Homo sapiens: one gene and its partners. The protein of the gene in region 2 purifies or fractionates together with the protein of the main gene of each other region. This does not show direct contact. Each region holds a gene or a part of one and is shown on either strand. Other genes may lie near its edges. The genes, in order: XPO7, SLC39A9, SRPRA and TTK.

What was found.
Region 1: the proteins of SLC39A9 (region 2) and XPO7 purify together in Homo sapiens (affinity purification with mass spectrometry; 3 studies listed by BioGRID and IntAct, with this or other methods). This does not show direct contact.
Region 3: the proteins of SLC39A9 (region 2) and SRPRA purify together in Homo sapiens (affinity purification with mass spectrometry; 2 studies listed by BioGRID and IntAct, with this or other methods). This does not show direct contact.
Region 4: the proteins of SLC39A9 (region 2) and TTK purify together in Homo sapiens (affinity purification with mass spectrometry; 3 studies listed by BioGRID and IntAct, with this or other methods). This does not show direct contact.

What each region holds. Positions count from the first base shown.
Region 1 is NC_000008.11:21,922,632-21,929,668, reverse strand, and holds part of XPO7 (exportin-7), read right to left. Parts: intron 1-7,037.
Region 2 is NC_000014.9:69,394,382-69,401,721, forward strand, and holds the start of SLC39A9 (zinc transporter ZIP9), read left to right. Parts: upstream 1-4,310; 5' UTR 4,311-4,988; coding exon 4,989-5,084; intron 5,085-7,340. Other genes in the region: ERH (enhancer of rudimentary homolog), read right to left, coding at 444-531, 3,850-3,852. UniProt on the Homo sapiens protein: Transports zinc ions across cell and organelle membranes into the cytoplasm and regulates intracellular zinc homeostasis. Participates in the zinc ions efflux out of the secretory compartments.
Region 3 is NC_000011.10:126,262,438-126,265,932, forward strand, and holds the end of SRPRA (signal recognition particle receptor subunit alpha), read right to left. Parts: intron 3,387-3,495; coding exon 3,300-3,386; intron 3,004-3,299; coding exon 2,831-3,003; intron 2,736-2,830; coding exon 2,522-2,735; intron 2,103-2,521; coding exon 1,939-2,102; intron 1,853-1,938; coding exon 1,754-1,852; coding exon of another isoform or gene 1,659-1,753; intron 1,608-1,658; coding exon 1,479-1,607; 3' UTR 501-1,478; downstream 1-500. UniProt on the Homo sapiens protein: Component of the signal recognition particle (SRP) complex receptor (SR). Ensures, in conjunction with the SRP complex, the correct targeting of the nascent secretory proteins to the endoplasmic reticulum membrane system.
Region 4 is NC_000006.12:80,007,643-80,014,679, reverse strand, and holds part of TTK (dual specificity protein kinase TTK), read right to left. Parts: intron 6,872-7,037; coding exon 6,649-6,871; intron 6,295-6,648; coding exon 6,188-6,294; intron 3,867-6,187; coding exon 3,723-3,866; intron 3,247-3,722; coding exon 3,132-3,246; intron 2,952-3,131; coding exon 2,879-2,951; intron 2,795-2,878; coding exon 2,700-2,794; intron 1,402-2,699; coding exon 1,314-1,401; intron 218-1,313; coding exon 94-217; intron 1-93.

The DNA of each region.
Region 1 (7,037 bases), on a different chromosome or scaffold from region 2:
TAAATAATACTTTAAAATTAGAAGCTGAAGAGAACTACGATTGCTAGTGAATCAGGACTTAGCACCAGGAAAAAGTGATTTCATGGTTTACTATCTCCCTTCATATTCTCCATCTCATCTGTAAAACAGTTACAACTATATGGGAATTTTAGAAGGTTTGTTCTTTGCAAAATGCTTTGGCAGATGATAAGTTAACACTTGTTTTTTTCCCCTTAAAACACTATTTCCTATCAGTAAAATTCTGAATTTCTTTTATGAGTTAACTGCTTCCTCTCATCACTTGGCCAAGAGAACAGGACATACATGGATAACAAAATATATCCATTTGCATTCACACACATCTGAGAGGACGAGGATCTAGCTTATTTTTATCGACATCCAGGAAAGCAATCCTATAACCTATGTTCCACTTTGCTTCTAATCCCTTTGGTTCAGCGGCAAGTTTATTCTAGAGTAGCACTGTCCAATAGAAATTTCCATGAGAGTGGAAATATTTTATATCTGCACTATGCAATATGGTAGCTATTAGCCTCATGTGGCTACTGAGCACTTGAAATGTGGTTGGTACAACTGAAGAACTTGATGCAGTTCCTGTCAAACTGGGCTTGGGTTAGAAACATACTGGGCTGGTACGTCCTCCACCCAAAAGTCAGGCAATAGATTTGAAGGGACACATCACCAAAGAAGATCTACCAGAAGTCTGCAAATGTTTTCTCTAAAGGGCCAGAAAGTAAATATTTTAGGCCAAAATGTCTGTCAAGACTATTCAGCTCTGCCACTGTGGTACAAAAATAGCCATACGGGATACATAGATGAATGCATGTTCCAATAAAACTTATTTACGAACAGTGAAATCAGAATTTCATATAATTATCATGCAACATGGAGTATTATTCTTTTAGATGTTTTCAACCATTTAAAATGTAAAAGCTATTCTCAGGGTGCAGGCCATACAAAAACAGGCTGTCAGGCCAAAACACCAGCCTGGTTTGCAAGCCTGAGATATACAAATGTCAGTAAGCACATGAAGAGATACTCAACATGTTAGTCATCAAAGAAGTACAAACTAAAAACACAAGATCCTACTAGAAAGGCAAAAAGAATGACAATACTAAATGTTGGCGAAGTTATGAAATAACTCGAGGTACAGTCATTTTGGAAAATTGACAGTTTCTTTAAAAATGTAAACATACACAATAAGACTCAGCCATCCTACTCCCAGGTACTCAAGAGAAATAAAAATGTACATCCATACAGAGACTGGTATATGAATATTCACAGCATCTTTATTCACAATGACTAAAAACTGGGAACAACCTGAATGTCTCCCAAAGAGTGAATGGATACATCCAATGTGATATATTCATACAACGGAATACTTGGCAACAATGAAAAGTAACCAAGCACTCCTACTATGCAACAATGAGAATCAATCTCAGAGTTACTATGCTGAGTGAAAGAAGTCAGAAAACAAGAGTATACAGTAAGTCCATTATATAAAATTCCAGAAAATGCAAACTAATTTATAGTGACAGAAAGCAGAACAGGGTTGTGTGGGTCTGAGAGCTGAGGGAGGAACAGACTGCAAAGAGGAAATGTTCCATATTTTGATCCCGGAGTCACAGGTGTATGTATCTGTCAATTTGTACACTTTAAATGGATGCAGTTTACTGTACGAATAAAATTTTAGTAAAAAGGAAAGATTTTATTCCACTGGCAACAGATTTACACAACAGTAATCTCTATGAACCAAATATCCACTTTTGTGAGTGCTGTTTACATTTGAGGGGACGGGTATGGGAGGAATAGATAAGAAGTTGGGTCAGCCAGGTGCGGTGGCTCACGCCTGTAATCCCAGCACTTTGGGAGGCCGAGACAGGAGGATCACCTGAGGTCGGGAGCTCAAGACCAGTCGGACCAACATGGAGAAACTCCGTCTCTACTAAAAATACAAAATTAGCTGGGCGTGGTGGTGCATGCCTGTAATCCCAGCTACTTGGGAGGCTGAGGCAGGAGAACTGCTTGAACCCGGGAGGCAGAGGTTGCCGTGAGCCGAGATTGCGCCACTGCACTCCAGCCTGGGCAACAAGAGCAAAACTCCATCTTAAGAAAAAAAAAAAAAAAAAAAAAGGTTGGTTTTTTTTAAGTCTCACCCTATCAATGCTATCAATGTTAACACGAAATGTGCCTTTGGGAACCTCTAGGGTACATTAACAGTAACCTAAACCAAACAGCTCTGAATGGACAGGTTTTAGGAATTCTGTGAAATTAAAACTTCTTGCTCACAACATTCTGCTCTCCCTGTATGGAGTGTGGCTAACTGTAGAATTCCAAGAACTAGTAAATAATCCTTTACATTACAACAAATTTTCATTTGTAACACCTGTGGGATAATGTCCTTATTTTATTTGAATTTAATTTAAATTAATTAATTAATTTTTTTTAAAAGACTTGGGGTCTTGCTATGTTACCCAGGCTGGACTTGAACTCCTGTACCCAAGTGATCCTCCCAGCTTAGCCTCCCCCCCAGTAGCTGGGACTACAAGCATGTGTGCCCCTGCCTGGCCTGTCCTTAAATACTCCCTGTTGCTCAGGTTCAATTCACCTAAAAACAATTTAATTTGGTTTTATGAAGGCCTGAAGAAAGTTGCTCAGTTCTGGAACATTATCAGTTCAAAATATTAAGACTAAGGAAAACAAGGTCACATTTTCCAGTAAGTTTTATTTAATCTTTAAAATTCTTGGGTATGCCCCAGGCTAGTTTTTGACAAGACCTCGCAGGGATCCTTAGATGGGTCAATGACAAGCTGAAGACAAAAATATCACCTACTAACACGAACATTACATTCTAAATAATTTGTGGCTATATATTGGGCAAAATTTAGATTTTTTTTCAACTGAGATGTATAGATTTTATCAATACATCAACAGATGTATTGATATGTGAAATATACATCAGGTTTCCCAGATCTTTTTCAGAGCAAACTTTATGTTTCAAGTTCTTACAGTTAAGTTAAATTTCATGACTAATTTTAGACAACGTCTTTTTGGAAGACAGAAGTAAAGCACTGAAGTTCAGGAGTTAGCAGAGGTGAATGAGGTTAAAAAAAAAACAAGCTTTGAAATAATTTTTGCCAAACTCATGACATATGCTTTCAAAACTTTGCAAACAATTTTAAATAGAATTGGAAAAAATCCTAAGAAAACCCTTCATTTCCCTTTTCTAGCCTTAAATACACCCCTTTAAACCATAAATTGACTCAAACTTTAGGGCAAATGTCTAGCAAAACTCTCAGTTCTTTCTGAGACTGCACATTGTAAATATCATAATTTCTTATCATGCAAAGTACCAATGAGATCAGCATGTGTCCAACTCAAGTTCATATATTTAAAAGCTAAAAGGCCACTACAGTTATAAGATTACAATTTCCTGAAGTAGTACAAGGGATATTTTAATAATCTGCTTGTTTTCAGAGGAACATTGTTTTCCAGAGGAAAATATTTTGATTTTTTTTTTCATCTAACTAATGTTTTTCTAAGAGAGGTTTAAAACCCAGGGGCTTTTAAGTGAGAATCATTTCTCAGCCTACCGGCATCAACATTTGACTAATAATGTTAATTTCTTGTCCCATAAGAAATATCTTTCACTGCTTATTGTCCAACTAAGAGACCTCTTTCGTTACTGTTTGGGGCATAAGAGAGCTCAATTTGTGAGAAGTGCTACAGATGACTAGATCTTACAGAAAAAAACTCTGGGAGTTTAAGAAATTAGGCGTAAAGAAGAGGAAGATATATTTAAGATAGATAAAATGGAAATGTTGGTTTGAGCATAAATATTTTAAGGAATTTTACAAACATGTACATATGAATTGAGAACACGGTGCTATATTGGGGAGAGAATACAAGGATGACAACTGGAAATCCCATCCAGAATGCTTGAAGTACAAGGGACTTCACAGATCACTTAATCCAGGCTCAGAGACCAAACGAGTTTCCCAATTAAATGGCATAACACTATAAAAGGCTTAGCATGGTGCCTGGCATATAACAGACACTCAGTTAATACTGGTATCCCCCTTTCCCTATGACCAACCAAGTCACACTCCAGTAAGTCTTACAATAACCACCACCATGAACATCATCTAAATCTTCCAACAGCGAGTTCTCCAGTCTTCCAGGGATACCAGGTCTTTTAATCAGCTTATTTCAAGGAAAATTCTATTACTATTATCTCTATACCGATGTTACATTGCTGCGGTGAGCATTAAATGATATCAATTAATGCTAGCATGAAGTTTCCAATTCTGCCTTCTCTTAAATACATCCTTCCCATTTTATGGCAGTAGGAGTGTGTGTGTGTCCTTGTGTGCATGCACACATGTGCGAAGGGGTGAACAGCCATTGAAGCAAATATCAGAAATACTTAGGATCTAGGTTTTTTACAACTCTCTCCCTCCCCCAAGATTTTGATATGCCTCCTGGGTACCAATCCCATTCCATTGAGAATTTCCTAGTAATGAGTCACTATAAATGTTAGGAATGAATGTATTCCAGACATGTATTGGAATGGGGGAAAAGATAACGGGGTAGTGACTGCCCCCCATTCAGGGACATGTCGACAAAACCAGTCTCACTACAAATTCACAACTCAATGACCAGGCTTGTTGTGATGCTCAATTCAATGTAAGGCCCTGGAAGTAGAATATCACATCTTGTATTTCCTTCTATGTGTCTGCACAGTAACAAAAATGGGATATTAGTAGATGCTTAAGTGGTCACCATTAATCATCCTCAAGAATTTATTTCAATATTTAAAAATTCAGCTTGCATGTAACTCTCCAGGAACATTTATCGTGGTCCTGAACTTGCTTTTCAAATAAGTCAAAAGAGAAATACTTGTAAATCAGTTTCTCAATAAAATGTTGTGAGCATTTTCATCTAAAAAGAAACATATATTTAAACTCTAGTTATCAAGGTTCATGAATGGCCTAAAATTGTGGGTAAAATTTTGTGTAGGCACACTCTCCCCACCCCCACCAGAGAGCAGTAACATAGCTTCCATCATATTATGAAATAAATCCCCCCAAAGCTGTATAATCACTGCTCTGTACTGCTTCTCCCCCTGGCTTTGAAGCTAAAACTCTCAGGTTACTCAGCTTGAGTTCTAAAAGCAGATTTAAAAATAAAATGACAGGATAGTAGTTAGTGGGGTGGGGGGGGGAGGGGGGCTACAGGTAGCTGTTGAGATGGTATCAGGGGACTTCTGGGGCACCGATAATACTGACTTGATTTGGGTGCTGGTTAGTAAGGAGTATTCACTTTGTGAAAATTCATCAAGCTGAACACATATGATTTCTGTACCTGTCTGCAGGTATATATTTCAATAAAAAGTTTTTGAAAAAAATAACAAAGATGGGTCACTTATACACAGCATATATCATTACAGAATTTAATGAAGTCCTTAAAAATGATGCACTAGGAGAGGCCCATTGGTAAAGAACTGCAGCCTCCAGACAACAGCCAGTGAGGAACTGAGGCCTGACCAGGCCCGCTGTGTGTAAACCTAAAGAAAATTCTCTATCCTCAAGTCAAGCCCTGAGATTGACTGCAGCCCGGAGCCCCAGCTGAGAGTTTGACTGCAAATGAGACCCTGAACCAAAACCATCTAGTTAAGCCACTCCCAGATTCCTAACCCTGAGAAAATGTGAGATAATGTTAGGTGTTTTAAAAAGATGCAGTTTCAAAACACTATCTTCCTTGCACATACTGAAGTGGGCAAAGTAGCCTCAGTAGTTGTACCTACAGAGAGACATTAGCTTATTGGTTTAAACTGGCAACTTTCCCACCTCGAAAGGCTGTGGTACAATATTGCTTTCAAAACCCAACCAAGAAAAAAGAAAATACAGCTGGTGGTTATGAACATCAATTTCTGGGTCAAATGGAAGCTAATTTCTCTGTAAGATATAGAACAGGGATCTTCCTGATACTTCTTTCTATACCTTCATCTAAATTAGAGATTCTTCCATCACTGTACTGTATTTTGTTTTTTCTGTGTTAAGTGTTTGAATGATCCCACACGTATATATACATCCCTTAATTTTTCTCAAGGCTTCTCAGGAAATATACTAAAGTCAGAGTAATCAAGTAAATATATAGATATATATGTTTTAAATACAGACATTTCCAGTGTGGTGTTGAATAGGAGTAAAATAATGAAATAAAATACACACATATTATTTGTATAAACCCACGAAAGAGGTATAATCAGGGTGGGAGTGGGTGATGGGATATAGTTATTGCTTATCACCCAACACAGATGTAGCATGTTTTGAAATCAATGTATTCTTTCTTGTATCTACGTGTGTGCTCCTGAAGCCTGCCAAAAGAGCATCAGAATTGGATATTTCAGCAGTCTGGCTCCAGTGTCTTTCTCATTCTGAATCCTCTGAAGTGCCCAGCACAGAAAGGGCCTTGCACACACTAAGCATTCTGGTATTAGTCGAACTGGAAAAAAGTTAGAAAAGTTATGTTTTTTCCATTTAAAATTCTCAAAAGTTGTACGGAACTCCCTTTTCAAAATGGACTACCCATAGCACTTATCATTTCCTTGCATATTGTTAAAAGCTGAAAAAACAACCATCACTTTTGCTATAATCAGGCCGACTTTTTGCACCCTGCTAAAATTTAACCTGACAAGTTGTAATGATTCTTCACAACTCCCTGGAGTTACACTGGTAGTCAATATTTAATTACTGTGCCTGGAATTTAAAACAAACTATGACTACTTTGCAAATAGTACATTCTCCTAGTACAGTCATAATGCAAAGCCCAGTAAATAATAAGACCCAACACAACAACGTAGTAATTCCAGCAAAATCCTGGAATCAGTCTTCATTTCCATTATTTATGGTAAAACTAATATAATTCATATTAAATAGCATATTCGATATATAAATCATATTCTTTCCTTCCTTTTCCTCTCGAGCTCCTGAACACCAGCTAGCACTATTAAAACTAACATCTGATCCTTCTTAATC
Region 2 (7,340 bases):
GTCAGGAGCTCGAGACCAGCCTGGCCAACATGGTGAAACCCCATCTCTACTAAATACACAAAAAATTATCTGGGTGTGGTGGCCCATGCCTGTAGTCCCAGCTACTTGGGAGGCTGAGGCACAAGAGAATCACTTGAACCTGGGGGGCGGAGGTTGCGTAAGCCGAGATCGCATTACTGCACTCCAGTCTGGGTGATAGAGCGAGACTCTGTCTCAAATAATACATAAATAAACAAACAAATAAATAAAATGTTCAATAATTATGGTCCATCCTAAATATCTGCTTTCCCTCCTAAAATTAGCAATTCAATAAATTTGGAGGGTTGGAAGTGATAAAGGCAGGGCCTGGGGTGGATGGACTATTAAAAAAAAAAAATTTGGAGGGGAAAAACCCAGTTCCTAAATGAGACATTTTTCTACCCCTTGATTAGTGTTAAACTCACCTTCCATGCATTCATTCACAGATTCGTAGTCAGCATAAGTTCTGCCTTCTGGCCTCTTGGTAGGCTGTACCAGCAAAATGGTGTGAGACTGCAGGGGAAAACATGATTTCAATATAAGTTTCTATTTGAGAAATTCATAGTATGATAAAAAAAAATCCCCATTTGTAATGCAATAATGATTGCTAGTTATTAAAATGTAATTAGAGAGGCCAGGCATGGCATCCCATGCCTATAATCCTCATCCTCTGGGAGGCTGAGAGGGGGAAAATCACTTGAGGCCAGAAGCTTGAGACCAACCTGGGCAACATAGCAAGACCCTGTCTCTACAAAAAAATAAAATTTGCCGGGTGCATGCCTGTAGTCCCAGCACTTTGGAAGTCTAAGGCAGGAGGATTCCTTGAGCCCAGGAGGCTGAGACTGCAGTGTGCCATGATCACACCATTGCATCGGAGAGTGAGGCCCTATCTCTTAAAAGAAAAAAAAAAGTCATTAGGATACTTTTCCCACAAAAATATTGATGTCTTAGTCTAAGTATAGTATCTAGCTGGATTCACAACTCTGCTGTACGGTCTCCCTAAGTCTCCCAGTCCTACCGTACTTACTGCCTACAAGTAATCAGTATAAGCTACCTTGCCCTCCTTTTCCTTTTCTATCTTTTCTTCCCAACTAAATTATAAACCTGCTTAGGTTTTCTGTCTCCAGTGGTCACTTTCCATCTTTAATGCTCTTAAGTCACTAATAAAAACTCAGATGGGCTGATGAAAGGAAACAAAAGGGGAAATAGTATAATAATCACAAGCATGGTTTCAACTTAAGCTTTTTTTCCAACCTCAGCGTAAGAGCAAAGTCACATTTTATCCAGGGGTTAGACTTAACATTAAAGCAGTAGATAAATTAGCAATATAAACATATCATAAGAATTACCCTTAAAAATCCATTAAACTATTCACCTAGTAGATGACTTGCCTTACTGGGCTTTCTCATACCAAAATCACATATTAGAATCACACAGAAAGTTAGGTCATCACACTATGAGAAATGTGAAATAATGCCCATAGCAGACAGACTTGTCTTCCACTTCGTGCTCACTGGGAAACATGTTTTTGTTAGTGATCAGTCACTAACAAATCAATCTCAGTGTTTTCTCAACGTGGGCTCTATTACCTTTTGGGTTGACTGATTCTTTGTTACAAATGTCCCTTGGGGAGCAAAAAATCTCATCCAGCTGAGAATTCACTGGTCTGTTGAAAATATGACCCATCCAATTTTCTGCTACATGTGTAAGGTTAATTAAATGCAAGTATGATGCAACTCCACTGTAAATCCAGTCCCAAATCAAACTATTCACCTTTTTCCTTCTCTTCTGCTGTACTAGTATTTTTCAGCCAAAAACCAGAAAACAAAAATTTCCTAACAGGAACCCTAAACTGTTTTGGAATAACATAATTTTTTTTTGGAGACAGTTTTGTTCCTGTTGCCCAGGCTGGAGCGCAAAGGCGCGATCTCAGCTCACCGCAACCTCTGCTTTCCGGGTTCAAGCGAATCTTCTGCTTCAGCCTCCCAAGTAGCTGGGATTACAGGCATGCACCACCATGCTCGGCTAATTTTGTCTTTTTAGTAGAGATGGGGTTTCTCCATGTTGGTCAGACTGGTCTTGAACTCCCGACCTCAGGTGATCTGCCTGCCTCGGCCTCCCAAAGTGCTGGGATTACAGGCGTGAGCCACCGCGCCTGGACAAAATGATCAGAATTTTTAACCATCAAATTGGAACAGAAATAGCTGAAGCCCAGACTTTCTGAATAAACAATGGAAAAATAGTACATTTAACATGACATGCAAAACCAAGGGTTATCATACCCTTCTCTCCCCATCAAGAACTAAACCACTTTGACTAAAAGTTTCAGAGGGTTTGACATAAAAACGGAACTTGGTGACAAGAGACGAAGGATTAACTCTCACCTGTAATAACCTGAGCAGTCAAAGCCTTTGTTAAATCGATTTAAAAGCCACAGAAAGCATCATATTAGATTATTTGTTATACAGAAGTCTTTGTAAGCTAGCTACTCAAAAAGTTTCAACGAGTCATTTAAGAAAAAATAATTTTGTAGAAACCACGTGCATTCTTGCAACAGAGGTTGCCCTATACACTAGCTATCTCAACTGCTACTATAATAATTGTATTCCAATTCTAATGCAAATTAAAGGACTAATTTGAAAGGGTAAGAATGGAAAAAGCTATACAGCATGTTGCTTTTTATATCTAGTCTTAAAATGAACACCGGGCAAAGTTTACTATTTTCAGTACTTACTGCCCAAAGACAAGGATTAAAAATCACTAAGAACATAACATGATACATTTTAAAAACTGTGGTCAAGTGGTTATCATTTTTAAATGGCAATGCTTTCCTGCTCAAATTCTTTACAGATTATACCACCTCTCAAGCCAGTTTTGGTCACTTTCTTCGAATTGGAGCTTACTGATCATCCCGGTTGGGTTCTAATAGAGCTGGTCTCTGAGCTGAGCCTACTTTTCAGCCTCCAGCCCCAAGAGGATATAAATACAGATAAGTACAGGATCGAGGGCTGAGGGACGCGCCACACGCAATACCTAGAGGTCTCAAAAACAGGAAAAAAAAAAAAAAGGCAGAGCACAGGAAAACGAAAGCTGAAAAAACACTGCAAAGCAAATACGTCCTCTCCTGGCCCACATGCTGGGTATAGCTGGATCTGTCAGCTTCGAGAATAGTTAGACAACCCTGGCCCATTGTTCCTACAGCAGGCTAGAGCATTTGGAGGGAAAAATACCATATCCGGCAGGGCCCGGTGGCTCACGCCTGTAATCCCAGCACTTTGGGATGCCGAGGCGGGTGGATTGCTTGAGGTCAGGAGTTCGAGACCAGCCTGGCCAACATGGTGAAACGCCGTCTCTGCTAAAATAAAAAAATTAGCCGAGCGAGGTGGCGGGCGCCTGTAATCCCAGCTACTAGGGAGGCTGAGACAGGAGAATTGCTTCAACCCAGGAGGCAGAGGTTGCAGGGGTCTGAGATCCCGCCACTGCACTCCAGCCTGGGCGATAGAGTGAGACTCTCTATCTCAAAAAACAAAACACCTCCCCCACGTCTCCCTCTACCGAGTAACAATCGGGAGAGAGTTCATCCTCAGGCCCAAGGCACGCCGGACCCGAGCGAGCAGGCGGGCGCGCAACCGCAGGGCGGACCGGGGCTCCGAGGCCTAGAGTCAGGCCTGGCGTCCCTGCGGCGGGAAGAAGGGTCAATCCACCGACTAGAGTGGCGGGGAGCATCACGCGGCGCTGCATGGGGCTCGTGGGGAGGGGAAAACGTATGGGGCTGGGGTCGCTCTGGAGGCCGGGGACTCGGACTCGGGTAGCCGCGGAGGCCTTTCTCACCATCGCGCCAAACTCTCTTCGCTACAGCAGCTGCCGACACCGCCGCCGTTACACGAGCTTAACTACAACGCCGCTAACAGCCAATCCTCGCGAGAGGAGCCGCCGGAAGTCGTCGAAAGTGCAACGCAAAAGAGCCTTTTGGATCATAGAGGCACAGTCACTTCCGGCAGCTAGAGCAGCTACTGACTCTGTTTCAGCCATCTTCGATAAAGGCAAAAAGGTAAGGGAAAGTTTCCAAGCTTTAGGAAGAATTATTTTTTTTCAAGACGCTGTCTTCCGTACTTTCGTTATTAAACATACGGCTCAAGTGATCACCGGTATAGACAGTGACATCAGACATCTTTCATTAGCCCTACTCAAAAATGGCGGCAACGTAAGTATCCTGGGCCGGAGGTCGGTTGTAACCCGGAAGTGCCTTTGTAAAGGAGGGGGTGGTTAGACAATCCGGAAGTGGATGGAATGAAGAGATGCCACTTGGCGGCCATGGCAGCTGTAGTATCGGCGACTCCGGGTCAAGGCCCGGTCGAGTGCAGTACCATGGGCAGCACCGGGTATAGGGCAGAGACAGCTTTGTGTCAACTTTGCTGCTGAACCCCTAGGACCCATCGTTAGAGACCTGCAGGACTCCTTTCCTCATCCCAGGCTCGGAGGAGAGTTTGCTGGGACTGGTGGGCTGGTTTCCTGCTCTGGGGGGCGGATCACCTTCGGGGCCGCCTCTTGGAGACAGGGGCGCCTAGGGAACGAACAGGTTCGCTTGAGTCACTTACCCGCCGCCGCCTAAGACATTGTGCCACCCTCAATCCGACAATCGAAGAAATCGATCATTCGCACATTTTCCCCATTGACTTTTCCCATCTCTGTTAACCCACGAGAATCTAATGACTGGCATCTGAGAACCCAGAGCCTGGGACCTTAGATTGCTGTAAGCTTTCTCTGGTGCTAATATCAGCAAAAAGGGTCTGTTGCCGGGTACGTTCAAGAGGAAGGTGCCTCGTGAACACATCTGCTGGTGGGAAGGCCTAAAGAACTGGAAAGCCCACTCTCTTGGAACCACCACACCTGTTTAAAGAACCTAAGCACCATTTAAAGCCACTGGAAATTTGTTGTCTAGTGGTTGTGGGTGAATAAAGGAGGGCAGAATGGATGATTTCATCTCCATTAGCCTGCTGTCTCTGGCTATGTTGGTGGGATGTTACGTGGCCGGAATCATTCCCTTGGCTGTTAATTTCTCAGAGGTAAGAAATTCTCAATTTTCTGTCAGCTGTCAGGATGGCTGTGAGATAGTAGTTTTAGTTGCAAAGGGAAGCTGCTTCCCTAGTTAAATCTCAAAGCTGAAGGTCTCATTAAGAAAGACTATCTTTTTTAAAAGATACATGACACTTAATAATAGAAAGAAACCTCATATTCATTAGTGGAATTCTTAACCTGGGGTGGATAGATATTCCACGGAAGATCCTGGAGTATTCTGAATCCCCTAGAATTGCTTACAAAAATTTGAGGTTCTGTGCATTTACCTGGAGAGAGGCACCATAACATTTCTTTTGATTCTCAGAGGTTTCATGGAATCAAGATTCCAGATTGTTATCAAGAAAATAAATGGAGGGCTGGGCGCGGTGGCTCACGCCTGTAATCTCAGCACTTTGGGAGGCTGAGGTGGAAGGATCGCTTGGGCCCAGGAGTTCTAGACCAGCCTGGGCAACGTGGCGGGACTTTGTCCCTACAAATGAGGCTGAGGCAGGAGGATCGCTTGACCCCAAGTGGTTGAGGCTGCAGTGAGCCGTGTTTGGGCCACTGCACTCCAGCCTGGACAGCAGAGTGAGATCCTGTCTCCAAAAAAGAAAAAAAAAGAAATGGAGAATGTTATTTTTCTACATGAACTGAAATCAATATGATAACTTCCTTTTGAGAAAGTCAAACACACCTTTCTGAGGAAAGCTGTTTTGTTTTTTGGATGTCTGTACTAGAATGAATGTAAGAAAAAACTAAGATTGTTCTTAACTCACATTTCCTTTTAAAGAAGGGGAGCCTTGGAATTGATATTCTGAAGTTGTTTCAAATCTATTTGCTTAGCAATGAATTTTTGGTTAATACGTTTTGACATTTTCGTTAATTTGATTGGCACCTTGAACAGATGTTAAGCGAGGGTCCCGGGAAGAGGGATAGATGAAAGCACTGTTCAGTGAACATGCTGATAGGTCCTTTAGGTAGGCAAAAGGAATTCACGAAGTGCACAGCGTTCAAAGATTTAGGGGGGAAAAACTACTACATTCAAAGGGAACAAGATTTCATGAGTTTGTCCTAGAGTTCAGCAGTAAAATAGGCCCTAGTTTCAGTGCCATTCCTGAAAGTACTTTCAAAGGAGGCCTGAAGTAGAAAGGAAAGGTATAAATGAAATATTAAGTACACCTTGAAGAAACCTGAGGAAGAGGAGACATTACAGGTGAAAATAGCCTGTGGGTGGGAAAGAAGGTGGGACAAGGTGTTGTCAGTTTGAGGAAAAGTAAAGCCCATAGCCAGATGGAACAGATGCTTAAATTGTTGTTGTTCTTTTTCTGTTTCCTTTTTAATCTGTACCCCTCAGCATCTAATGATAGCATTTTAAAAAATTACGTGCATTACCTAACTTCACTTAAAAAACTCAAGCTGGGTGCGGTGGGGCGCGCCTGTAGTCCTAGCTACTCAAGAGGATAAGGTAGGAGGATTGCTTGAACCCAGGAGTTGGCCTGGGCAACATTGAGACTCTTTCTCTTAAAAAAAAAAAAAAAGAAAATAAAAATCAGTGACATATAGATGAGGAAACGGAGACTGGATAGGTTCATGAAGTTTGTTAGAATCAGAAGAGAGGTATTTTTTCAGTCTAGCTTTTCTGACTCAGACTAGTTCGTAGCCACTAAGCATTTCGGCAAAGGTACATGGTACATATACATGGTAGCCTGTGTGCCAAATCCAGCCTGCAGACTGTTCCATTAGCAGAAGTTTATTATTGTTGTTCTTTACCAGTATTTCCTAGAGGCAAAGGTTGGGTCGGGCTGAGTAGCAGCTGTTAGGCACAGTCCTCCTTGCCCTTGAAGCCTGTTTCACTTATTTGGGTTACCTGCCTGCCCAGTACTTTGTGAACCTGCTATGTTTCCTTTGACATAACCATATTTTCTTATAACTATATTAGAATTGAATTGACATTAGTAGGGCTGACATGTGTGAGATTTGGGTTGGTTTGTGTATTTTTAAACATATTGAAGTAACATTTATGAATAATCATAATTAATTCTGATAAGCAACCAGTAAAACTTTTTATTTCTATAAAATGCCTTTAACTTTACCAATTCCAGTATTTTTTCAAACTACCTTGAATGATTATTGCAATATGCGGATATATACTATTTCCTTTTTCACTAGAAGGAAATGTTTACAGGAGTGGTGTTAATAACTGGGTCATTAATACAGATAATTAGTATGTCATGTCATTTGTGGCTTTCTTAAATTGACGGTCA
Region 3 (3,495 bases), on a different chromosome or scaffold from region 2:
ACTGACCGGCTGCAGCTCTGCATGAAGGACTCGGGGTCTGGATGCCATGGAATCACTGTGGCTCTTGTTGCAGTTTTGTACTCTATACTTGGTTTTTCAATTAAGCTTAATGGCTTTTTTAAAACATGACTTGAAGCTCTAGTTTTCTAGATCTTTTACAGTGTACAGTATTTTACATAACTAAGCTGTATTAAAAGCTTGTTCATTTACTTGCCAGGACCCTGGCTCTACTTTTAGAGTCATTGTAAGAAACTCTAACTTGCATCAAGGTACTAATAAGCTTAATTTTAATAACCCAAAGTTTAAAGGTTCCGATCTTTCTCCTTGGGGTGGAGTGATCTCATTCTCAGGACAACCGTTTACTTACCTGATTCCTCGGAGCATTATCAACTTCTGCTCTGTTGTCCTGACCATACATATGTCCTAGAACTACAGTTAAGTGTGTTGTGGAATTTTAGTTTTGAATCCTGTATAAAAGAACTCCAAGACCTAAAAGGCAATTTATTTATGAAATTTATTTTCTTATATAAATTACTTATTTCTCTGGGCAGACAGCCTTCACCTTATTGCACTAATAGCACATCTGTAATATCAAGCTACAGGACAAGTCTTAACAAGAGGTTTGTGTTCTTCAATGTAGCACTTGTCTACCAGGCACTGTAGAGGGGAGTGATGAGGAAAAGCCAGGACTGCTTAGGAGGTGAAGGATGGGAGGGGAGGGGGTCATCATACATCCTTCTGACAATTGGTTTCCTCCCAGGAAGGGGAACATGCAGAGCTTACTTCTGGATTCTGGGAGTGGGAAGAGTTGGGAGGCCAAGAAGCCCAATGCAACGCTGCAGCTGAGCTCCTTTTATTTCTGAGGGAAGCAAGGACTCATCTTTTGCTCATTTGTAACAAATCACTCCAGCCTAGCTGATGCTTTGGGGTAAACAATGGAGTAGGAGTCATCATCAGAATTAGAATTAGCAGCAATTAACAGGCAATACACTGCCACAGTGAGGCGGGTGTCATCCAGGTCCTGGGGACCTGCAGGCTGTGTATCCTAGGGAGAGGTGCCATTCAAGACCTGGCGCTGGCTCTGGAAGAGTCTCTTAACCTAATGCAGCTGGGACTCATTAGGCTCAGACGGCTCTTGACCACACTAATTATTAGCAAAGCTCTGGTGTTGGGTTCCAACCATTGGTCAAAGCTGTAATAAGACTGAGTCTGTAGGCAGAGTGAAGGGGGTGCCTGAGTAGGAAGGGGGAGGCCCGCTGGGAGAGGGTCAGTGGGCAGTGATTGTAACATGATTAGGCCTTCCTTGCAGATGGCGGCTGTGCTGAACGGGGAGTGGGGTTGGAAGGAGCCACAAGCCCCCTCACTCTGCCTTTGTACTACACTGAAGACAGGTTGCTCACATACTCTAAAGCACATTCTTGATACAGGAAGAAGGGCTTGTGGGGAAAGCGGCGATTTGGTATTGGGCAAGAGCCACGTTAAGCCTTCATGAGGGCAGCCACCACAGCCTTGGCATTGAGGCTGCGTAGGTCACAGTAGGTCTGGCCGGTGCCCACAAAGACGATGGGTTTGCTTGTGATGTACGTCATAGAAATAGCAGCTCCCACCTAAGTGGAGAAAGAGGACAGCCCATCAACACAAGCCCACTTTTCACTCACCCTCTCAGGAACAGGAAGCGCTGGAGCCAAGATTTCCTTGCAGCCTCAGCTCCTTTGTGCAGGACGCCCATTCCAGCCTCCAGTCTCACGTTTACCTTGTCATCAATGGTATCAAATTTGGTAAGAACAATGCCATCAATGAGCCGAGGTGTCTGAGCCATAGAATGGTCAGCCAAGGCTCTGTTGAACTTGACCTGGAAAGAAAAAGTGATAGAAGTGTAAGAACCATCTAAATTGACCAAAGCTCAAGTTGTAAAGGGAACTGGGCCCACGCTCTCACCAGCTGGTCCACGGCTTCATTGCCTACTAAGGCTTCTCCTACAAACAGCACCAAATCAGGTGTATTGACAGTAATGAGTTTGGCCAGGGCAGTCATCAGAGGGGCATTGTCTTGCATGCGGCCTGCCGTGTCCACCAGCACCACGTCAAAGCCTTGGTTACGTGCTAGAGAAAGAAAGTAGTCAACTCTGAACACCTGGACTACCACTCATGCTCGTTCCCAGCTTCCTCTCAAAAAGTCCTAGTTTGACTACCTGTTCACTGTCTTGGGCTCTGGATTTGGTTCCAAGGTAATGTGAGAAAAACTTGATTATATGCTTGGCCATCACCAAACATATTCAGGAAAAGGAGGACAACAGGATGAAGGTGACCAAATTCAGGTTTCTCTGGTTAAGGTATATTAGCTTTGCCTGCAACTACATCTGTTATCCAAAAGCAGAGCATGGCAAGTAACTGATCTGACTTTTTACTGTAATTGACCAACGAGTCTGTAGTAGCACAAGCCTGATCTTCTGCAAATTCCAAGAGAACCCAAGGAGAAAAAGGGACCCCAAATAAGCCCCCACACTTCCCATGCACTGTACCAAAAGCAATGGCTTCCATGGCAATGCCAGCAGCATCCTTGCCATAGCCCTTTTCAAACAACTGCACCATGGTGCGGCCACCATGCTTCTCTGGAGGGTGTAGGGCACTCAAACGCCGGGTGTGTGTACGCAGCTGCTCCACGGCCCCAGCACGAAATGTATCACAGGCAGCAATGAGGACACTGAAGCCATTCTCTAACAACCAGAAGGAAATCTGTGAAAAAGACGTAAGAAAAGTCACCTAAAGCCAGGATTTTGAGACACAAGAAGTACAGAAATATCAGCGATAGGCTGGGGAACTGCACTGACCTTGGCAAGATTAGTAGATTTCCCCACTCCATTAACGCCGCAGAAGGTGACGACATAAGGGCGCTGGCGACGCTGGGCATCCATGATGTCCCGGAGCATGTCTACACGACGCTGTGGCTGCAGAATCTGCACCAGGGACTCCTGTAGGGCTTGCTTTACTGTGGAAGTCACCGCTGAAAGGGGAGGTGGAGGAGGTTGCAGCTGTGAAACTCAAGGAATGCTCTCAAAAATGCCTAACACCTTTCTGAGCTAAGGGGACTAAAACAGTAAATTAGACTCTTGTCCCAGAAATCCAGAACAGACGCACATTACAAGGACTAACTCACTGAATCCTCTCAATAACCCTTAAAATCTAGGTTACAGAGGTTTAGAGGTTAAGGAATTTGCCGAAAGTCACATACCTAGTAAGAACTGAGGTCTATGCACTTAACCTACACATAAGCACTTTCTCACTTAGGTAAGTACTTACTGCTGAACGTCCCCATCACCTTCCCTTCCAACTTGTTGGCAACAGATTCACAGAGCTGGACGGCAATGTCTGCAGCCACGTTCTTAGCTGAGGAGAGGGGGACAGGTATGTCAGTTCCATGTCAGCAATGACCAATCTTTATGGTACAGGTGAGAAACGCTAGGTGATTCTGCTCTCAACTACCCCTATCCCGCGA
Region 4 (7,037 bases), on a different chromosome or scaffold from region 2:
CATCATAATTCTTAGGTGGCTAGTCTGCTTTCTTAAGCTATCAAGTGGTTTTCTTAACTAAACATACAAGTCTACTGATTTTGTTACTCTTACCTTCTAATTTAGCTAGAAGACTTGATTCCGTTTTATTCTTCAGGGTTATTGAATCAGTAATAATAAGTTCAGAACTCTTTTCATCTGACACCAGAGGTTCCTTGAAATGACTATTTTGAACAGACTACATGAAAAAGAAAATCAAATAAAGTCCCATAAATAGTAGTACTACTAATCTGTCTTACTGTTCAATATACTAAAGTCTTATCTATACATGGATTGCTCATAAAATTTTCTATTATAATTATATGTAGACTCACAAACCCCCAGCAAAGGTTAACTGCCTGAATTATTAATTAGAGAAATGGGAAGGGTCATAACCATAAATCTGGCCAATTTGCTTTCAGTGGATGTATTAATCAATTGCTAAAATATATTTCACTTAAAGATGGAAAGGGTTAGAAAGTTTGAATTCAACATAGAGTATGCCTCATGACAAGAAAAAAGATTTAAGTATTTTGTTACTGTGATGGCTATTTTATCACCAAAAATAAGTCAAAACTAGTAACTGCATAACTTAAGAGAGTAGTTACTCTAAATCCAGAGAACAATCTTTTTGACACAATTATGCACTGTTCTCTAGGACAGCCAGGATTAGGAAAAATTAATACTTAAAGCATAGGTCATGAAAGAGGGAGGCATTACAAAGAACATAAAATTGAAAAGACCCACATCATGATGCCAGGGGTTTAACTCAATTATAATAATAGTATAACCACTAAAAATCACAGTGTACCAGGAACTAAAATTATTTCCTTTAAGTCCACACAAAGTTGCTCTGCCATGTCAGGAGGTCAGGATTATTTATGTCCTCACCTCTGCCCTAACTCAATTTACTCTCTCATTTTTTTTTAAGATGTCTTACCAAAATCATATGATTAAACATAACAAAAAACAAAACTTGGGGGCAACAGTTCCCCCAGTCACGTATTCCCAAACCCAGGCCAACTATCTGCTTAAACACGTGCATAATAAATATTACTTCATGATTCTCTTAAAAGATTGTTGATCCTTGCTCTACCACCTTAATCTTGGAGAAACATAGTCTAGGACTTCTGCACCAACTTCCCACTCGTAGTCCCACAGCTCTTGGGGTATGTGGAACACTGTTGGAGATACATGAACTATTTATAAACCCTTTCCCCAGAAAAAGCTCCATGAATACTGATCCTCCCAGATCAGGAACCCTTGCTTTATATAATGATATAGAATTAAAATACCTTTAAATTTCTTAATTCACAGGAATCATTTCCACTTGGTTTAGATCCAGGCACAACCAAATCTCGGCATTCTGATCTAGAGGTTTGTCTTTTACCCGTGAAACAAAATAATTTTAACATTAAATTTGAAAAAAAAAATTTTCAATGTATTTTTTCATCTCAAGTTGGATTTTTAATAATATACATACTTTTTATTGAAAAAAATCTCTTAAAAAGACATTTTTTAGAGTGACATAATTCCAATACAAAAGTGACTTAGCTAACAAAATTACGTGCTGGGCAATGACAAAAGTGACACAGGTGATCGCCTACTTCTTCATTATCTAATCAGTAACAATTGGAGTTAGGGTTAGACTGTGGGAAAGGCAAAGTATACAGATGAAACTACATTTCCAATTACAAATAGCTAAAGGATAAGAACCAGGGTATAGCACTTCTGTGGACCTCCACAGTACCTAGCATTGTCTATCGATAACAGGAACCAAGAAAATGGCTGCAGTTTTTCTGTTTTTGTTTTTAATTTTTTGGAGCGGAAGAAAATCTCCTTTATTCTTGAGCTAGGTATTTGAAATAGAGATGAACAAGATGAAATCATAGTGATAAGACTTTAAAGCTTAACCTTGACAAACAAAATGTTCTTTTAATGTCAATATTTAGTCAAGTCTAAATATAATAGAAATGTAATTATAAAAGATAGTAATGAAAAACAATCGTATTTCTAAAGTTTATTTGCAAAATGATTCTCTGGACTGTAAGGAGCCTTTTCCAATATAAATATTACAAATGTTGGTCAGAATTAAGAATAGGCCAAAATAACTCTCCTTTAGCTGAGCTACAGGCTACATTCCCATTTCTTAACAGGGAATAAACAAGCAAATTGAGGGAAGGAGAACACACTGGATGTGATGAACAGTAATTCATCTGTACCTAACCTGTCCCACTTCTTGAAGCACTAGACTCAAGCAAAAGAATAATCATCTATCCCACTGACAGCGATTCTCCCCTTGAACTATCTGGAGCAAATATTTGTTCCCAGACCTCCTTCTACCCGTTATGGAGACTCTCAAACAAAACAGGAAGAGATTCTTAGCAGACAGCCTACCCGTAAGTGACAAATCCTCAAATATCAGTCTTTTAAGCTTAATGTTGACTTAATATTTTTTCCTTTTAAAGCTCCTTTAATGAATATTTTTAATGAGTGAAAAAGCAAAACAAAGTTATTTTCTCCACTCATTCCTTTGTTCCTGACAACATTTAGAGATTATCTTCTAAAACTGAATAAAAATTTAATCATAATTACTATTACTCAGTAAAAGACTTTAAGACCATTCTGCCATTAATCTTCCCATACGGACAACAAATTTTAAAAATTAAAACTCAACATACCTTTTCATAAAACAAGGTACAACTGAATCATCTGTCTTCACATCACAATCTGGGCTATTTAGAAGGTTAACTGGGACTCTTCCAAATGGGCATGACTAAAAATATTTTGAAAGATTAAATAACCAACTAGGAAATAAAGACTATCACCACCTTAATCAAGCAGATTGAAAGTAACTTACCTGTTTAGTTTTGTTAGTTTGTCTCAATGAATTCCGGTAACCTATTTCTGCATCTTGTGGTGGCATGTTCTCTCTAAACAGAAAGAAAATACCCCCAATTTTTCAAAGAACAATATTAATATGTATTTCTACTCTACTGCTAAACATTATCACACACATGAAAACATATATGCAGATACATGTAATTACATTAAAAAACACAGATGTACTTACATAGAAGATGAACATTTAAAAACTGTTTCCGTTTCCTTACCCATATAAAAACCTGGCTTTAGTAGTCTGTCCTCTGGAATCACAACTGTTGTTCCTATTCTGTAAATGCCCAAGTGAACCGGAAAATGATTCTTGGGCAGTTAATACCGTAGATGCTGTAAAAATTTTGAAACTATGATTAAATTTATAAGAAATAAGACAAGTACAAAAAAGTGATCTTACAAATAAGAATATTTTAAAAGTCAATTCATAGGAAATACTTGTCCCCAAGTAAGATATGCAGACATGAAGATGATACCAAGATAATTATCTAACTACTTCTTCAAATTCTCTTAAATTATATAACTATTTCCCCAGGGTAAAAGCACATTCTCTATTTCCAAAAGCAAAAAAAAAAAAATTCTCTTGCTTAGAGTTGTTTTTCATGTGTTAACGAAAGTTTAGTTAGCAAAAAAGACAAATTTGCATGGGGTTGTAGAGACTTTTTTACTTCTCAGTCTTACCTCCTTTACAATTTAATCTTAGATTTTAACCATTCTACATAAATAATATTTTTCTATAAATTATTATCCCGAATCTTTATTTGAAGTACTACCTACCACAGAAAGTATTAGTATACCTTAATAGTTACCTGATAAATTCTTCTTTTCCTCCTCTGAAAGCAGCTGCTTTTTTTGGAGGTTTAAATTCCGCAGGGCAATTTCCAGCATTTCTAGTGGTACTGCTCCACGTTCTACAGCTTTTTGAAGAAGTTGTTTACTTTTTTTGACATTACCTAACAAAGCAAAAGATAATTGTCATTTTTAGGCAGTAAAATGCCCACCACCCAGACCACCCAGATACGTATTCATCAGGACCTAGAAAAAAAAATCAAAAAGACTTAAGCAAAAATATTTATTCCAAGGCTCATGTATTTTATTTCATAGGCAAGTAAGCAATCTCTCACTTTTTATGCAGATAACCAACTCTCTTCTGATAACAATGCATACCAAATAGTTTCCTTGCAATATGTAGCTGACGTAATTTTGCATTAGTTTATCACCACTGTCCACTTTCAGAAGTAACAGAAGTGTAACAAAGCAGTTACCAACAGGGGACAGCAAAGGCCAATCACAACAGTTAGAAACAGGAGGGCATTCTAGATGTTACAAAAGTGCCAAGAGCATCAGTCTCTTACAACATGCTATAATAAGTATCATTCATAATGACATTTAGTTAAGGGAAGGATGACATCTTTTGTTAAAGAGCATCTTCCATCAAAAGGATTTTCGGGGAAAAACATAATAAATACAGATTAATCTTTAGCTGTCACACTCAGCTATACCAGCCTGAAAAAGAATGCAGAATAACTGAGGAACTATCATAATTACCTTTCTGAGTATGGACAGATTACCAAAAAAATTGGTAAACTTACCCCTAGCATTTGACATATAAATATTAAATGTATACATCACATATCTTACAGAATATTATCAACATTTATGGGAGCCATTGAGCTATGCTATGCACTTGGTACTTAGCGTATAAAAATGCTTAAGAGATGATCTCTAGCTTCTGGTAGTTTATAAATTTTTAAAAATATCTTTGATAGTGCTTACATCTACATTTACTAAGTAGTGGTAGAATTTCATGTATTGTGTATTTTAGCACAAGAAAAGAGAGAAAGGCTTAAGAAGCTTAATTAATCAGATAGCTTAGTATTGAGATCAGAGATTTCTTTAAGAATCTGGTAAAAACTGAAATGTCCTCCATCCCTATAAAAATACTCACACACCAGACTCTGCATAGGACTTCAGGGATGCTGCATTATTTCCTGACAGCCAAGCCATCAACTGTGCTCAAAATAATCATAATTTGACCACACTGCATTACTGTGCAATGCATTTGACCACATTGCATCACTGTGCATTACTACCACATTGCAGATAAAGTGGTATAGATAAAGTTCGTCTTTTTTACAGATAACTCAATTTAAGAGTTTCAATATTTACATGTTCTAAACATGTAAAATTTATGGTTGTTATTGAGAGGCCACAATACCTCAAGAAATTTTCAAGCAGAATGGAGAGAAAGAAGCCTTGCCAAATTTTCTCTAACAAGCAAGGAGGAATCCATTTTTCTAGAGAAGAAAGGGATAATAGTTCTAAAAAGTAACCTGATAGAGCAAAGGACATATTGGAGAAGACAATTACTAGGACTCAGAAATCATCTGAATGGGTAACAATTCAGGGTTCTCAAATTATTTCTGAGTCATATAATTATTTTCTCCAGGCTCAATCCTGGGGAATACTCTCCAGTGACCAATCCCTGCTATGGAAACCATCATGGGGATTCTTCCAATAGTGTTAATATGTTTATCACTGGCAGTAAATTGGATCACAGTTGTAGCAGAAACAAGGCAGTGGGAGAATGGAAACACCTGGCCAGAGGGCAGACTGAGGGTGTATCCAAAGGCCCTGGAAAATGAGAAAAGACTAAGGAATGGCCAGGTTAAAAATGTCTTAGGAAGAGATTGTCTTGGTCCTACCCAAAAAAATCCAGACTATGAAGAACCAAGTGAGCAAGAAATAGTTTCTACAGCAGTTTACTTTTTTATTTTAAAGAACTACCAATTAACGCTACACACACACACACACACACACACACACACACACACACAGATATATAGTTTACTTGACCACCAAGTTACATAGCTACACTTTAATGTACATTTTGGTGCTATGAAACCATAGCATAAGAAAAGTTTATGTAAGCTCTAGATATTTAAAGCTCTAGCTTAAATATCTGATATCCTTCTTCCTACAAATACTCAGTGAAGCAGCTACTTTCCTTTAGATGTTTCCTGAATCTAACTAGTAGCACATACACAATGTTCATGCTCATTTCCCTGGATTACTCTTTATACATGGAAAAGCTAGTATAACAGATATTCTCTGCATTTACATTTAGGTGGCATTTTCTCCCCATATTCTCATCTGATCAACTTTAATGTCTTTTGCCTCAAATTTCCACTTCATATATATGATTTAATATTAGGAAGTAAGTTGTAATAAGTTATCCTTTACTTAAAATTTGAATTTGACATTTTCAGATTACCTTGTGACAGTTCAAATTGTGCAAAAGATATATGAACAAAAGCAAATTTCTTGCAGTTTGCTCTGGCCATTTGAAAGTAGTCACGTGCATCATCTGGCTCTTGAATACTGTAATAAAAGATTTGAGTCAAAATTTAAGAAAAAGAACATAGCTACTTAAATTTGATAATGCTTCATTCAATTTTCCAAAAAACATGGGATATTGCTTTTTTCTGTGGGTAAAATTAAATACTAATAAGTTATTTTAAAAAAATCTTTTTAGGCAGTTTAAAATAAGTAAACTGTTGTGGAAACGTGCATAGAAAAGAGTTTACATTAGTCTCTTGTTAACTATAAGCAAAAGTATTTGGTAAAAAAATTAATATTTTCTCACAATACTGCCATGTTTTTTATTTTCTCTCTTTGCAGTGTAGTTACATATTATGTAACATAGTTGAACATAGTTAAAATGCTAATACTTACGCTTTTAATTCAGCAAATCTCACTTGAATTCTAGCAAAACTCTCATTTTGGCCATATTTATCTGGGGGAAGCGCTTCAATTGCTTGACTGTAACGACCAATCAATTTATTTAAAAGAGCATCACTTAGCGGAACACTGTTTTTCTCTAGTTTGAGCAACAAACTCAACCAGTCCTCTGGGTTGTTTGCCATCATCATAATTTGGTTAACAGTTCCCGAGTTATCTAAATAAGGGGAACAAAATATATCACAAGAAAAGACATAAAACAAATGCCAAATTGCATTTTTCCTTCAAAATATAGTCAAACATTTGTACTGTCAGTATCAATGTACATAAAGTCCTTATAATACTTTTTAAAATTGTAAAAGTTCATATAAATACAAGTAACT